Linked DNA regions of Homo sapiens: region 2 is linked to region 1. Evidence: fine-mapped expression QTL. A gene starts in region 1. The other region holds a variant in brackets. All regions are shown on one strand. Distances are between the middles of the regions. Region 1 holds the start of LHFPL6 (LHFPL tetraspan subfamily member 6). Region 2 overlaps LHFPL6 (LHFPL tetraspan subfamily member 6).

Region 1 (8,495 bases):
CTATTCTTAAAATTTGTAAGTTTTCAAACTCTGAATTTACATTTCCACTTTCAATGACAACTTCTTTAGGTTTCCTAATAGTTTTAAGTACATACCTGTGTAAATATACATATCACATGCAAGACTTTTGTCAGTGTTAAACATTGAAGCTGTAAAGAGATGACAGGTAGGTCCCCCACACTGCCTCCCGGGAGGGACTAAGGTGCAAACCCAATGGGAAAAAACCCAAATGAGAACAAAGTTACATCAGTAAGGAAAGAATGGACAATTCTATCTCACTTTAAAACAAAACTTTCTATCTCATTTCAAAACACAAAACTTTGCCACTTGCATTTTCAGCACAAGAATTAAACTTTACTGAAAATGTTACTTGAAAGTTTTATATTAAATACTCTGAAATAATCCATTGGGGTTCTCTAATATGGGGAGACTGTCTCACAACTACTCATTTTTAATTCATTTTTCTTCTTCTGGATTCTTCACAAAAGACTGTAAGAAAACACCAAATGAGGGAGTAACAGACCTTTACTTTGTAATGAAGTTCCAAATACATTGTATAAGTTTTCCAGGCTTCCTATTTCCCTTCACTCTGCACTATCTATGGAGGTTGTCATATTTCACCAGGGTGGACTGTAAATCAGACAAGTTCAGCCAGTCAGGTTGAAGAATGGAGGTGAAAAGCACAGTGGAAAATACATAAAGTACAATTAAAACCATATGACCAAAGATATTGAAGCAATACTTGCTGGAGGGAATCCAAGTAAAAATCAAACCTTTTCTGGCGTTAGTGAAACTATCCAGTCCATCTGGGACAAGCACACATCATTTGCTAAATATCCCTTTTCTTTTTTTCCACAGCAAGAGCACCCAGGAAAGTTAAGACCTAACAAGGTAATTAAGTGGATAGCTATCTCTGTAGAATAGTTAAGTTCATAGTTGTTATATAAAACTGATCTCTCATTTAAAATAGTTAACATTTATTTAGAAATAGAGTTTAAGATTGGGCAAGAGTAAATTTTGCATCCACCAAAGTGTATTAGAGGTTCATGATAACAATGTTGAATCAAAAACCTTTTCCACTTTTCTGTGAAATCTTTACCTTTAAAGACCCGAGGATTCCATGAAGACAAAGATAATCTAATTGTCTATTGTTTAACATAACGAACAAGAAGCTATAAAATCCAAACTGTCGCCCCTACTACACCTCAAACAACCTAGATGTTACTGTTTCACATAGGTGGCACTTAGCAGGCCAGTGATGTATATGTACAGAAATTAAGAACTCTTGAAGTTGTAAAGCAGCAATTCTGACAATAATCTTGACTTTGGCAACCTATCATCAAAGCCATTCCAAATCTATTTCTCTTATGCATTCCAGGTGTCATTTATAATAATCTCAGTAGACAACTGAAACATAACTTTTAATACTGCTTTGGGATTCCAGTAAACAACTCAAGCTCAGCAAGTCACTTACCCCCAAGAAACTGAATTCCTCCAGCCACTCTTCCCACTGTCCTGGAGATGAGGTCGGAAACACAGCAACCCATGAGGGCAGTGAGCGCCACCAGGAGGAGGAGGCCACAACCCAGGCCGGTCACTATGGTGCAGATCCTCCATTCTGCGCTGGGGATGCCCTGGAAGGAGGCATAGCGCCCACATTCCTCCACCATCACCATCATCTGCCGACTCTCATCATGCACAGGATATGAGCACCTCCGGAAGGTACCGAAGGACACAGGCTTGCCCAGCTGTGATCCCCAGAGCCAGTAAGGCATAAAGAACCCCACGCAGGAGGTGGCAGCACAAAGAAAAGACAGCAAAGCCCAGATTACTCCAGTACAAGTCAGGCTGGATGCCATCTTTCACCAGATAGGGCAATGAGGACCCCAAGTAAGTGTTCAGGGACTGCAGGAGTGAATGAAGGTGTGAAATCACCAGGGACCCACAGATAATCCACAGTTCCGTAATGCAGAATGGATCTTCAGTCTTACTGGGCATCAACTTTCCATCCTCTGCACTAAAGATGATGGTCCCTGGTAAAACAACAGGAAACATTAAAAATTAAAGGCATTAAAAGAAGTGATAACACTGTTTCAGCTAGTCTACAATTTTCAATTAATAAACATTGAGACTTGCCTCAACACTTTAAAAGTGGGAAGAACTAATTCTCTCTATGAGCTTCATAACTCGATTTTTGTCAAACCAGCTCAAAGCTTTTTCATGTCTTTATCTTCCGTAAATATTTCCAAATTAACTCTGACAGCTATTTACTTAAAGAAACGCCCGATTTTTATTTGACAGGCCAATGAATTCATTCTATATATTATATACTCACATTAAAAGTAATGTAGCACTTTCACTGGGCAATAAACAATTAAAATAAAATGAACCATGCCATGATTTCCATTTTTTGGCTTGCAAGTTCATGCTCATAGTTTGTTGCAACTTTTCTATGTCCCTTTAAGGGTGCATTAACTCTCTGCATGAGCCAAACAAACTAATTAGGATAATTTTTCACAATTGCAGAGTACCATAAATTTAACAAGCATTATGGTCTGCGGAGGCACCCACAGTACAGAACTATTACCAGACACTCTTTGTACTCATTCAGCAGCATTTCAGAATTTCTTTAGTCTTAACATCTTCTAGTGTAAAAGAATGCCTGTGTATGACTTATTTTGAGTCTGCAGTTTTGATTCATTGATTCCAACAGTTCTATTGCAATCATTTCTCCCACTGAATGATTGTCTAATTTGAACAGCAATCCATACTTCCCAGTATGCTACATCAAACCCCAGTCATCCAAATGGTTCCAGGGGCATCTACTTCCACCCCAGCCTTTCAAAAAGAGTTCCTTAACCATTTCTCACACTTTCCATAAAGAAATGAATACAGAAGCACAGAGCCCATCCACCCTAGAATTCCACCCCCAGGACCCCTAACTCCAGCTTTCAGGGTCCATAGCAAATTTCCCCCTTTCTTCACCTCGCCCCTACCCGTTTTTTTCTCTAACCACCGCCCATTTTCAGTTCTGGATGTCACTCAAACGGGAGGTCGGCTACTACTTTTTTTTCTAATCTTGTCAACTGCAGTCAGGGCTGAAGTTGATCTATCTGGGCCACGAGGCTGGGGAAGACCAGCAGGGGGTGGCCTGCGGGCAGGGGGCCCCCATCTCCAACTGCGGTGAGGCGCCCTCGCCAAGACAAGCCCATATTTAGCCCCCTGCCATTGCCTCACCGAGCCACTCCACCCATGGAGACACACAATGATCCCTCCATTCTAAAAGGGGGCAAGAGGCATTTTCCAGCCGGCTCTGGACGAAGGGAGGGGATAAGGATGGGAAGGCAGCACCCCCCGGAGGCAGACGCCAAGAGCGGACGCGGCTGGCAGGCAGAGCCGACGGATCCGCCGAGCTCAGGAAGTCCGGAGCCCGGGAGCAGCCCAACTCCGGCTCCGGGGCAGAGAGGGAGCCCGGGAGAAAGCAGCGGAGCCCACGCCCACGGGGCAGCCGAGTGATTTACTTACATGGCTGGCGGGCGGCGGCCACCTTCCCTCCCGCGTCCCGGGCGCACACACAACTTGCTGTCTTTCTCGGGCGGGAACATCCACGGGAAACCGGACCGTCCTGCCCTTCTTTGCCTCTGTCCCTAACAGCCGCAGAACCCCGGGGCCCGACCTGGAAGAGCAGGGGTTGGCAGGAGGCGGAGGGTCTCCAGAAGCGGGCTGGCACCAGCGGAGACCCCCACTCCCGGCGAGTCCGCGGCGGCAGCTCTGGCGGAGCGCTGTGGGCGCGCGCGGGCGCCGGGGATCGCACGCAGAGGAGCGGATCTCCCTTTGGCAGGCGAGGCACGCACCGCCTCCTCCCCTCCGCTGCCCGGCCCTCCTCTTTCTCCAGTCCCCTCCCCTCGCGCCCCGGGGAACTCCGCGCAGACAGACCCAGGACGCACCGGGGACGTTCCTGGAGCGCCGGGAAGGGAGTGGGGGGGTGCCCCGCTGTCCGCGCGGGTCCAGGCCCACCCCCGGGGGCAGCTTTCGCGGCTCCTCCCCTAGCCCCGAGCCCCCTCGCGCCCCCTCTCCCTGCGTCTCATTCAAAGCTGAGTGGGGAAGGCAGACAGACCGAGAAGTATGGGAGAAAGTTGCTTGTCTTCCTGGGTGACCCCGAGGAGCCACGGAAGATGACACACTTTGCCTGTTGGGGCTTTTCTGGGTTTACTGTTCGGGTTTATGCTCCTGTTTTCCTGCCGCCGTTAAAAGAAGCCGTAGACGGGAAAGAGGGCCTTAAAGAGTGGGTAAAGTGGCCCCTTTGAGATTTGAGGAGGCTTTTGAGAAGTGGTCACTTTGGAAGGCGGTGAATGAGGCGGTTGTGGACGTGGGAATTAAAGCACAGCAGACAGCCCAAGGCTCATGTATGGCATGGGGGCAGCTGCCTTTCCAGACGAGCCAGGGAGAAGGCAGGGGCGGACCTCTAGCGAGCCTCTCCCAAGAGATACACTCTTTCAAAGGTCTCTCTCTCTCTCTCTTGCTGTTTCTCTGTCTCTCTCTCCCTCCCTCCCTCCCTTTCCCTTCACTTCCTCCCTCCCTTCTCCTCCATCCTGCCTCCTGATCAATTTTGCAATTTATTCCATCGTTTGATTTCTTTTCTGAGAAACAACTGATTTTTAGTTCCCCTCTGGACTTGAGGACTTTTTCCACTTGTCATTAGCACTAACCCCTTTAGAAGTTTAGAGCTAGATTCAGTAGATGACTGTGGGAGTCTCTGCTGAACACAGTATTTTAAGAAGTATGCCATCTGGGAACAGCAGTTTTTGAAGTAGACAGTTTCCCAGATATAGTTTTTGTGAGGTGTCTTTTTAGAGGAGTTGAAAGTAATAAATTGGTAGGTATATATTTCATAGCAGATTTTCAGACTGCACCATTTTAATTAGCCGTGATGGTGTACATTTTTCCCACAACGACAGCTGGAGATATGTGTTCTTTTATTATTATTTTGAAAGACCTTAAGTGATTGATTCCAAGCCTTTTGAGGTCACAGGTCTTTTAAAAAATACGATGAAACTGATAAGCCTTCCAGAAAAAAAAATGCGCGGACATATAAAGCTTTACCACAGCGATTCTGAAGAAGGAAAGGGATATTTGGCAAGGTCTGAAGATAATTTTGATTATCATAACCCATGAATGGGGAGTATTACTGGCATCTAGTTGGTAAAGACCCGAGATTCTGCTAAATACAGTGCACAGGACAGTCCCCAAAATTACCTGGGCCAAAATGTCAATCATTTGAATGAAATATCAGGTGGTTTCCCATTCCCTTAAAGCCCATCCATGAATCCCATATTCAGAATCCCCAATTTAAGTGTTTTTGTTTTTGGTGTTGTTGTTGAGTTTAAGTTGTTTTAACTCTTCTCTTACAAATCACCGGTTACTGGTTTCAGTGACAGCATAAGAATGATTGGTCTGACTTCCAGTTAGGTACCACACCCTTAGTTATTACACAGAGCCTTCATACCTATATAATATGATGGTGGAAGATATGATCATAAAAGACAAAAGAATAATAGTGAGAATCGGAGTCACCTCCGTACAACCTGCAGGGGAAATTGCTCTCAAACACTTTCTTAAGTGTGAGAAAGCTTAAGCGCAAGTGCTGGCTGGAGACATATTAATGATAATCATGGTTACTACAGATTGACTCCTTGCTGTGTGTTAGTACATTAAGGTCCCTTAATAGATTACTTATCCAGTCCTCAAAAAAGAAAAGAAAAATTATGAAGAAGGAATAATTATTATTTTACCGCAAGGATAAGAAGTAATTTGCCCAAAAATTTACAGCTAAAAAATGACTTTTAAAAAAATCTCATTATTTGCACTCTCTTAAGCAGAGTAAATGCTATCACAGAGATTCTGCCTAAAATGAAAAAAAAAATGACAGAAGAGGCCAAATTTTTAAAAATCTTTCAGGATGCAATATCAATTATTTGTGAAAGTATAATACTGGGACTCAAATTTCTAACTTAAATAAGTGAATTCAGACAAATGGTGATCTTCCCAAGCCCTAAGTTATCTCATTGTTAAAAAGAGATTGAAATAGGTTATTTTAATTTTTTTTAAGCTCACAACTTCCAGCATCATGGTTATATGGGTCCTCTTATCTTTGAGAAGGAATTTAGAGATCATCTAATCTTGTTCAAGTATGTAATTTTACAGCTGACAAAACAGAGGCTCGAAATTCTTCCAGTGTCTTACCCAAAGCTGAGGCTATAATCCACATATCTTGATTTCTCTTTCTAATTATCTTACTAAACTATAATATCTTCTGAATTACTCCTTATGTTCTTCCATGCACACTTTGTAAGCAAAATGCATTATAATTTATTTAAGCCCCTTTGCATTAAATTTGTACCTTTAAAGGACCATTAAATTACTTCACAGCCAGAAGTTCCCACATAGCAGATGCCACTTATAACACCTATTCCAGGTTTGGGTTTCCAGTATGTTTGGATAGTAGTCTCATTGAGTCACAAGATGAGATCATGAATGCGACAGTATATGGAAAGCTATAAAGTGTTTATGACAACACTCTTGGTTGGCTACCCAGTATTAATTCACAATCCCCTCTCCCTTCTCACCAGATACTCTTCTAGCATCCCTTAAAGCAAGTAATGGCCACTTGATCCTGCTGTAGCCAATGAGTTTGCTAAGGAGGCCTCTGGGGAAGATTGTATTCTCTGATAAAATAAGGAGACGTGAGAGAATAGTTCTCTCACCATCATGACTGTCTTCGGGCACATTCTTGAAGGTGTTTAGAGCTCTAGCAGCCTTCTTGTAACCAGGTGGGGGGTCACAGAGACATACTCCCAGTGATCTAACATTGTAGAGCTTCTCACCTCCATTTGAATTATTTAAAAAGTAAATTATAGATTTTTAATATGGTTTAAATCACTATGAGTTGAATTTTCTCCTTTTAGTAGCTAAAAGCATTCCTAATTGATAAAGCATGGTATAGATAAGACATTTTCAATGAGAGGAAATATACATCAGTGAACATTGTATCTCAGTGCTTGGCAATGTAGACAGATACTCAATAATCAAACAGTAATTGTGGGATTTAATGAACAAATCAATATCATCGTGATTACTATCCTTGTTCTAATGCAGCCTACAGAGTGGGTATTTAATTTTTAAACAAATGGTATGCTATGTGAAATTAGGGAAGGAGCATGATAATGAAATATCGAGAACATAATGAAATCAATCACTTCTGACTACCAGAGAGAGATTGGAAAGGGATTTAGTCTGTCCACAATTGTGGCAAACACTACAGTTTGGCTGATATCATTTCCAACTCACTTCTTTTACATTGTTATCTCCTACGAAAGCAGTGAAAGCTAAAATCTCCACGTCCTAGCCTCCCTTGAAATTTGAGGGGCGATGTGTGTGTTATGATATATATTAATTTTTGTCTACAGTTCCTAGCTCCCAACACCCATAGCCCTTGTTACAGTATTTTGTTACAGTGTTGGGTATGTTAGGCCTCAGGAACAGACCTCAAGAAACAGAACCTCTCTAACCTGCTTCTGCTCTCCTTTCACCTGCCCCAAGGCAGTACTCTAATCTTTCCCCCTCCTTTCTGACTGTGGGTCTTAGGACCCTCCCCTGAGAGGGACCCACCCCATATCCTGAGGAAAGCAATGGTGACATCATGAAGCTTCCATAAAAACCCAAGAGGGCAGGCTTGGCATGGTGGCTCACACCTGTAATCCCAGCACTTTGGGAGGCCGAGGCGGGTGGATCACCTGAGGTCAGGAGTTCAAGACCAAGCATTGCACTCCAGCCTGGGCAACAAGAGTGAAACTCTGTCTCAAAAACAAACAAACAAACAAACAAAAAAACTCAAGAGGGCTGGCGTGGTGGCTCACACCTGTCATCTCAGCACTTTGGGAGGCCAAGGTGGGCAGATCACCTGAGGTCAGGAGTTCAAGGCCAGGCTGGCCAACATGGTGAAACCCCATCTCCACTAAAAATACAAAACTTAGCTGGGTGTGGTGGTGTGCACCTGTAGTCCCAGCTACTCAGGAGGCTAAGGCAGGAGAATAGCTTGAACCCAAGAGGCGGAGGTTGCAGTGAGCCAAATCGCACCACTGCACTCCCGTCTGGGCTACAGAGCCAGACTCCATCTCAAAAACAAAACAAAACAAAACAAAACCAAGAGGACTGGAAGTTCCTGGAGGATGGTGTGCCCCAGGAAGGCATGGAAGCTCCACACCCTTTTCCCCATACCTCGCCCTGTGCATCTCTTCATCTGTTTCCTTTGTAATATCCTTTTATAATAAACTGGTAAACATAAGTGTTTCCCTGAGTTCTGTGAGCTGCTCCAGGAAATTAATTGAACCCAAAGAAGGGGTCATGCAAACCCCAATTTGAAGCCAGTTTGTCAGAAGTTCTGAAGGCCCAGACTTGTGACTGATGTGGGGTGACAGGGGCAGTCTTGGGGACCG
Region 2 (8,000 bases), 190 kb before region 1:
GGTTGCCTTATTCCTTCTCTAAGCTTAACCAAGTCCTGCCCTTATAATAGTGTTGTGTTTATCTCACGAGGACCCTTTCATATCAGCTGTGATTGAAGCACCTACAGGGACAGAGACCTGGGACTTTCATGAGCTTCAGAAAAGGCGCTATGATTACTGGGGCCTGATTGCTATGACATATCTGTGTGGGAATGTTATGAGTATGCTTCTGTATTTGCAATGGAATTGTCGGGAAGTAGAACTATAGCCCTTGCCTACCTCTAAATAATGACAAGCACTGCCAGCTATTTACAAAATTCAATTTCTCCTTCTGAGGCACATACTTAAACTGTATTTCCCAGTGTCTCTTCAGTGGGATGTGGCCATTAAGTGAAATCTAGCTAAGGAATATGGGAGTAAGTGATGTGTGCTGTTTCTCATCATGGCTTTTAAGAAGTAGATGGATACAGCTTCCCATACTCTCTTTCACTTCTGTGGGACATAAGTATTAGAAGAGACTTAGGGGATGGTATACCTATCAATAGAACCTGGATTCTTGAATCATCATATGGAAGCTGACTGGTAATATCTACTTGGGCTGTAATGTGAGCTAGAAATAAACTTTTACCGTGTTTCAACCGTTATACATTTTTAGGTCTATTTATTACCATGGTCCCACCTACCTAACTGAATCAGGAGACTATCGATACTTACAAGAAATAATCTAGTAATTGTTTATGACCAGACTGATTTAGAACACTTTGAAAATATTCAACTATAAATGATCAGTGCACTTTATTTGAAGAACATTTGAGAAAAAAATTGTATTGGGGAATTAGCAGACAGAAATTTTACCAAGCAATTTTAGATTTTTACATATGACTTTTGACTGACCACTACTTCTAAGTCTTTCTAATTTTTTTCTTTTCTTTTTCTCATTCAGGAATCACAGCAGGAATCTTAATTATACTACCATGCCTAAAAATAGCAGCTAGCAATTCTTGAGAACTAACTATGTTTTGGGAACTGTCCTCAGAGCTTTCTGGCGATTGATTAATTTCACAACATTAAGAGGCAGATGCCACAATTGTTCCCATTTTATAAAGAAGAAACTGAAGTACAGAGAGACTACTTCCCCAAATTTATACAAATTGTAGGCCAGGTGCAGTGGCTCACGCCTGTAATCCCAGCACTTTGGGAGGCCAAGGCGGGTGGATCACGAGGTCAGGAATTCAAGACCAGCCTGGCCAAGATTGTGAAACCCTGTCCCTACTAAAAATTAAAAAATTAGCCAGGTGTGGTGGCGGGCTCCTGTAATCCCAGCTACTCGGGAGGCTGAGGCAGAGAACTGCTCGAACCCGGGAGGCGGAGGTTGCAGTGAGCCGAGATTGCACCATTGCACTCCAGCCTGGTCAACAGAGCAATACTCCCGTCTCAAAAAAAAAAAAAGAAAAAAATTGTAAATGGCAGCAAGGGAACCTGAACCCATGTCTAGCACCAGTAGGCACTCTCTTAACATCTTCACTATATTACACCTGCCTTCTGCAGATATCACAGTAGATTCAAAGATGAACGAGCCCTAACTCTACCCCAAGGAGTTTATAAAATTAGACATAATACAAAGTAGTACAATATATGCATCGCTAAGTGAAATACAACATATTGTGGACTTTCAAAAGAGGGAGAGATGATATCTAATCAAAGAAATCTGGAATATTTAACGAAGGAAAAATAGCATTTGTTATTCATTTTAATCCAATTTAACATACTTGTATTATGCAATATTTTATGCCAATTCTTCAGAGCCTGTGGTCAAATAATAACTATGAAATGTATCCACATTGATATGTACTCAGGAAAATATCCTAATCTTTAAAGTAGGAAAATAAGATTAAAATATTCGTAAATTATGTTCTTATTTAAATGTCAAACCCGAAACTACTCAGGATTTTTTTTTTTTTTTTTTAGGAATTGGGGGTAGGGGGGGTGGGTCTCACTATGTTGCCCAGGCTGGCCTCAACCTCTCTGCTCAAGAGATCCTCCTGCCTCAACCTCCTGTGTATCTGGGACTACAGGCGTGTGTCATCACAACCGACTAGTTTTTTTTTTTTTTTTCTTTAAGTAAGTTTTAAATGAATTTTTCTGTTGTGTTGCTGTCTTTAATAAGTGAACATATGTTTGCATTTGCACAAGTGTATTAAACTCTAACATGCATATTGACAAGTGTACATATAAGGTCAGAGCTCAAGGAATTTTCATAAGCTGAAGACACCATGTAAACTTTACAAACATTAAAAAGAATCAACCAGCACCCCAGTAGCCTTCCTTCTATTCCTTTTTAATCACCACCCCTTCCCAAGGGTTATCCTACCTCCTGACAAAATAGATTGGTTTTGCCTCTCTTTGTACTTAAATAAATGGAATCATAAATTATGGACTCTTTTGCTATGGCTTCTTTGACTCAAATTTATGTTTACGAGACTCATCCATAGTGATGAGTATAATTAGAATTGGTTTATTTTCATTGCTGCATAGCATTTCATTATGTGAATATACCACAATTTATCCACTCTACTGTTCATAGGCATTTGGACAATTTCCAGTGTTTGATTGCTCAAAAAAATAATTCTGGGAACATTCTCATATGCCGTTTCATTCACATATCTATACATTTTTGTATGGACTATATGGAGGGGTGAAATTGCCAGATCACAGGGTATAAAAGCATTTAGAAAGATATTACCTATTTGGAAATCAAGCTCAATAAATAATGTTATGAGTTAGTAGTAGCACAAACCAAATGAGAAATGCTTAATAAAATAAGCATTAGCTGTGAGAATATGTGTCAACATTCACACAACATCTTCCTAATTCCATCTTCCATCTTCCTCTTTCCAGTATCAGATTTTAGCCACAGTTCATTAGAAGCTTATCTTGTCATTTTTCAGGAAATTTATTTTATAATACCACATTATGCTTCAGGGCATGTGTTTCAGGACAACTGAGGGAGTCTTCATGGTGGATTTGGGCTGGAGTTGAGGTAGAGCAAGGGCCCCTGCATTTGGTGTTATCAGTCTTCTGGGACTTTC[T/C]TGGGGTACTGTTTTCACTTCTTCTTCTTATTTCTAGTTTAGTAAATTTCACATATAATGCTTCAAGCTGCTGTGGGCTTATTTTTTTTGCCATTTGTGTTAAAACATGCTATGAAATTCTTGCTTACAAAACTTGGATAGAAGGCATGATAACACCAATTATTTGTCTTATCTCTGCCCAACCACCTAAATGATATAATTACTGGCAACTGAGGTTTTTTCCTATGCCTGTTGGCATTTAGACCCCTAAGAGTATTATACAGGCTAGGGTAAATTAACCTGAGAGAAAATAGCATGGTAACTTATTTCAAAACACAAATCATTTTTACTAGAACCAGGCCAAATCAATGTCTTTGAGAAGCTACAGGGTCTTGAGTCAAATTACTGGGGGTGGACATGGTACTTTTTCCTAAACACACAATGAAAAGGATCACTCTGATTATAAAGTCTGAGTTTCCCTTTCTAACCCGTCTGTGGCACATGACCAGTTTATTTGGTGGAAAACACATTCCTCAGACCCCAGGACAGGCCAACTTGTCCTAGTTTAACTTGTGCTGTGCTTTTTTGTAATAGCAACCTAAGACGGAAACATCTGGAAAAATACCATGACTGAGCTGGTGGGATCAAAGACCAAAGTGAAATGCTCTATTGTTAATTTCCAGGAACTGACACAGAACGCAGAGTGAAATAACTCAGCTGGGCATGAATCCCGTTGGATTTCTGAAAAGCTTGCATACTACTATATTGCCTCAGCCGATAACTGAAGGAAAAGTAGTTCAGCAAAGTTGAGGAAAAACAAATTTTTGTGCATGTGTATGCACATGCATGTGTATGCATACGCACATGTGGAAGAACTCAGGTCTGTGTTCAACATGTTAATAGTGTATTCCTCTGCTGGCAAAGACAGCTTGCCATAAAAATACTGAAAAAAAAAAAAACAAAAAACAAAAGCAAGCTGAAGAAACACTTAAGTCCTTCATGAATTGAAATTAAGAACTGTGCTTGCAAAGAAGCATCCCGGTGCCCCACCAGACTGAACTCCAGGGGGCAGTGGCTTTCTGGCATATCTTTGCTCCCCTTGGCAGCTGGGGCAGTGTCTGGCTCATAGTTTTGCAGTAACCGAAGGTGTACTGGATGAAGGATTAATAAATGCATAAATGAATGGGAGAATAAATACAACAAGCAGCAAAGCTTCATAGTCTCAGTGCTGAATTCAAAGTGAGAAGTCTAAACCTTGACACTTTTCAAGCCTTTCTCATTTGCAGCCAGTTTGCCTCCTTGAACTTTGTTCAATACATTACGAAGAAAGAAAGAAAACAATACTTACCTACCTTGAGTAGACATTTGATGCTTAGATATTTGCAGAATCAGGACTAGAAAGGTCCTTCAGACATCACCCCTAGATTCTCTGTCCATAGCAAGTGTATAATGACAGAATGGATGTGAAATGAAGAAATGTCCAAGAAATGAGATTATGCAGTCTCCTTGGGTAACGACTGAAGTTAGAGTACTGAGCAAATGTAAATTGCAACAGAAATGGTAAAGAAAATTAATATGAACTGACGTCTTTGATGAGAGTAAGAGTAGTAAGACTATGTGGGGAAAAATAATCTGAACAATTTGAATCAGGTTCTATTGACTCAATGATCAAGCCCTAGAATATAAACCCAAGGAGGGCTGATATGTTTATCTGTTTTGTTCATTAATGTATCCCAAGGGTTGAGAACAATGCCAGACATATTACAGATGCTTAGCACATGTTTGTTGAATGAATGAACCTTAATATGTTAAAAAAAAAAAAGAGGAGGCATGAAACTCCATTATATTAGGCCAATTCATTCTCCAGTTCATTTACTCTATGTTTTCCCCAACTGTGGTGCCACACAATGATACTTTTGATCATACAGTTTAAAGGACAAAAAGGTAGAGAATAAAATGCCTTTTCCCTTCCCCTACCTTGAGCTCCTTTTCCATACAACCTCTGAATATTTGGGCAATAAAGTCAAAAGTCTGCAGCTGGAGAACAGTGGTATCAGTTTCATGTACTTAATGTGTGAATGCAGTATGTAATTGCAAGAGAAAAGAGAAAGTGCTAGCTTTCTCTCTTTTACAGTTTGTGTGAACATAAATCAAATACAGGAAAGTTATAAAGTCATTGTGCAGTTTTTTAAACATTTATAATTCTGATGTCAGAGGTGGTAGAAAAAATTTGTAAATGGCATGCAAATCAAATTTTCCTCCTAAAGTTGTTAAAACCTGAGTTCTGCTAGTCCCAGCACCTATTTTTATCTTCTTGTCTACCATAGGCATATGAACATTTGTCACAGGTACTTGAATAATGAATACATCTTGTACAATCACATAAGGGTTTTCTTCTTAAACATGAACATGTTTTTGTTTTAAAATGTCATCTGCAGATTTCTTCTAGCCTGCCGATACATTTAGGTTATTCCAAGTTTAGAAGAGCCCGAAGGTGTAGGGAGACTCCTCTTAACTCCAGGAAGAAACAAAGGTGGGATAGGCCAAGTTGCTTTTATTACACTTCTTACCAGTGTCCAGTGTCTTTTCTCTTCTTTGGAATCATCCTGCCTTATTCATATCCCTCTTGAAACAGGACAGGACTGGACTCTACCAAAAAGACTAACTACCCAAGCTTTTTCCCAAAGGCACTGTTGGTTAACAGACATGTTGCAGAAGAATCTGTGTGAAGCCCTCAACTGCTCTGACTTGGGTGCCCCCAGAGGCTAAATTAGGTCACACCAGCTGCATAATATTAAATGGGGCAGGGGCGGCCGGAGCAACGCTGTGAGAAGCTGACATTCCTCAAAGCATGAATTGGAAGCCAAAGTGGTAGTTTTTGTTTTGCCTTTTGAAAATACATCTTTCTATTTCCCTCTGTCATTTAACTAACAGCTCCTCTAACTTTCCACCCGCTCAAAAGGCAAAAGAGACGGAGGGAAGGAGTCACATCAAGGACCAATTTTCCTTAAGCAAAATTCTTCCTTGTTAGCCATTCTGCAAAAATTCATTAGCTGAATTAACCATTCTCCACGGACCTCATCTTTATTCCTCTCTTCTTTCCCCTCCCCGCTTCTTTTTAACCTTTCAGCACAGAATTAAGTCTTTGTGATATTCAGCACATCAATGAACTCACCCAGCCAGGCGGAGCTCCTGGGCCGGGGCAGGGGCGACTTTGTGGGCTGCATTCCAATTGACTGGGGTGGTGACAAGGAGACCCAGCCCCAGCCATCAAATGGGCCCTGTGTCTGAGTATGATTCATAACACAAACATGTTTAGAAAGCGAAAGAAAGGAAGAAAGGAGCATGGGATTTGAAGTCATTGAGTCAGTATTGTTGCAAGATTTAGAGCATTATGTGGGGAGAGAAAGAGTGTTAGTCTTGTGTCCTAGCACCCAATCCACAGACAGATCTGCATCAAAACAAGGCATTTCACATCTTCTAAGATAAGCCCAAATTAAAACAAAACCAAACAAACCCCACATCTACTCTTCCCACTCCACCATCCCACTCCCACCCTGTCCTGGTAAAATAAATGAATGCATGAAATAAACAAGTAAGTCCTGGTCAATCTTACTTACATATTTTATCTTATGAATACTGTAGTATGCCAAATTAGCTGCTAATTCTTTACATGGGATTTGAAAAAAATGCTGCAGGGATTTTTAAATATTCAATGAACTTAAAGAACAAATGGAATATAATAGATTCAAAATGAAATGATTGCCTAGAAGTATGCTCTGATTCCTAAAATAAGATTTTTTTTTAAAGGGTAAAGTTTTTTTGGTCTTTTTTTTTTTTTTTTTTTCCAGAATGCCATATAACTAAAATCTGAGTAAAAGGAATTGGCCATGTCTAACTTTTCTCTTACTCCCTTATTTTTAACAGACTTATGTACATTTTATCCAGAAATCTCCTAACAATGCAAGTAGCGTCTGGGGGAAGTAAAAGCTGCATATTAAAAGTAGGGTGGAAGAGAATGTCAGCTTGAATGTGTGCAGCCCCTAAAGATTATCATCCACTTTAAATGATAAAGATCGGCAAGGCCCCTCATTAAAGCAGAATTCCTTGAAGCTCCCAATAGCGGTTGTGCATTTTCTTCATTTATAAAATACAATATCTGATTCAGTCACAGAAACCTCACAATATTGTCTTATCTTTGACAAAATTAAACAGCTTTGCCTTTCCTATCTTCTACTCTAGTAATCTTTGGCATTAACATGAAATTTCTGCTGTGACCAAACAGCCTTGCCGACTTTACAGCATGTAAAGAATCCCATTCATCCTGAGCTGCCTGGGAGATAAAGGTGGGAAATGGGTGTAATGTTTAGTGATACACAAATATTGCTGCCCAATGATCAGAATACAGATTCCACAGATTCACCTTCCTTAAACGTTTCAGTAATGTTTTCCTTATTTTATTTTATAATATTTATTTTTTAAGAAATGGTTAGGGCATGGATTTAGCTTCCCAATTAGTAAGTAGGTGAATCAGTCTACATTTCAAATGTGGGCTGTACCAGTCCATCTACTTAGCTTCTGGAGACAGCTTCAACAAAACCCAGAACAGGCTGCACTCCCTTTTGTCCTGACCCCAATCTTGCTTATGAAAGAGAACACTTTTAGATGTGAAAAAAATGGCAAATAATGAGTTGTTTCTCTACTCTGGACTTCTTGTGAAATACAACTACAATTCCTTCATCTCTCCCTAGTCCCTAAGTTTAAGCTGATGTCACTAATGTGATCACAGTGCTCTAAAGTTACAGTGTTTTACCTATCATTGAACAAAGAAAAAGAGAAACATTTCCAGCCAGCTTTGGATGAAATGGTTTCAAAACATATTTGGTATTCCCATCCTCTTCTCTGGATAAGTAAGGAAACAAAAAGTGAAAAGCTTTATAACCAATAAATGTC

What was found.
Region 2: its variant is fine-mapped to the expression of LHFPL6 in blood mononuclear cells (TOPMed, PIP above 0.99). The same link has a PIP of 0.9 or more in T cells, lymphoblastoid cells, monocytes and whole blood.

Annotation. Positions count from the first base shown.
Region 1 is chr13:39,599,358-39,607,852 of GRCh38, forward strand. LHFPL6 (LHFPL tetraspan subfamily member 6) reads right to left here and starts at 3,836. Exons shown (of 4, transcript NM_005780.3): 1 at 3,526-3,836; 2 at 1,475-2,033. The coding sequence starts at 1,859. LOC112268119 (protein SPT2 homolog) reads left to right here and starts at 1,967. Exons shown (of 4, transcript XM_035861111.2): 1 at 1,967-2,036; 2 at 3,093-3,183; 3 at 3,287-4,285. The coding sequence starts at 1,967. RefSeq lists a silencer at 3,731-4,030.
Region 2 is chr13:39,411,508-39,419,507 of GRCh38, forward strand. The region is part of intron 2 of LHFPL6 (LHFPL tetraspan subfamily member 6); the gene reads right to left. Among named protein-coding and RNA genes, the nearest start is that of LHFPL6, 190 kb to the right of the region's middle. RefSeq lists an enhancer at 5,536-6,478. The variant T/C (reference allele first, on the strand shown) is at 3,069.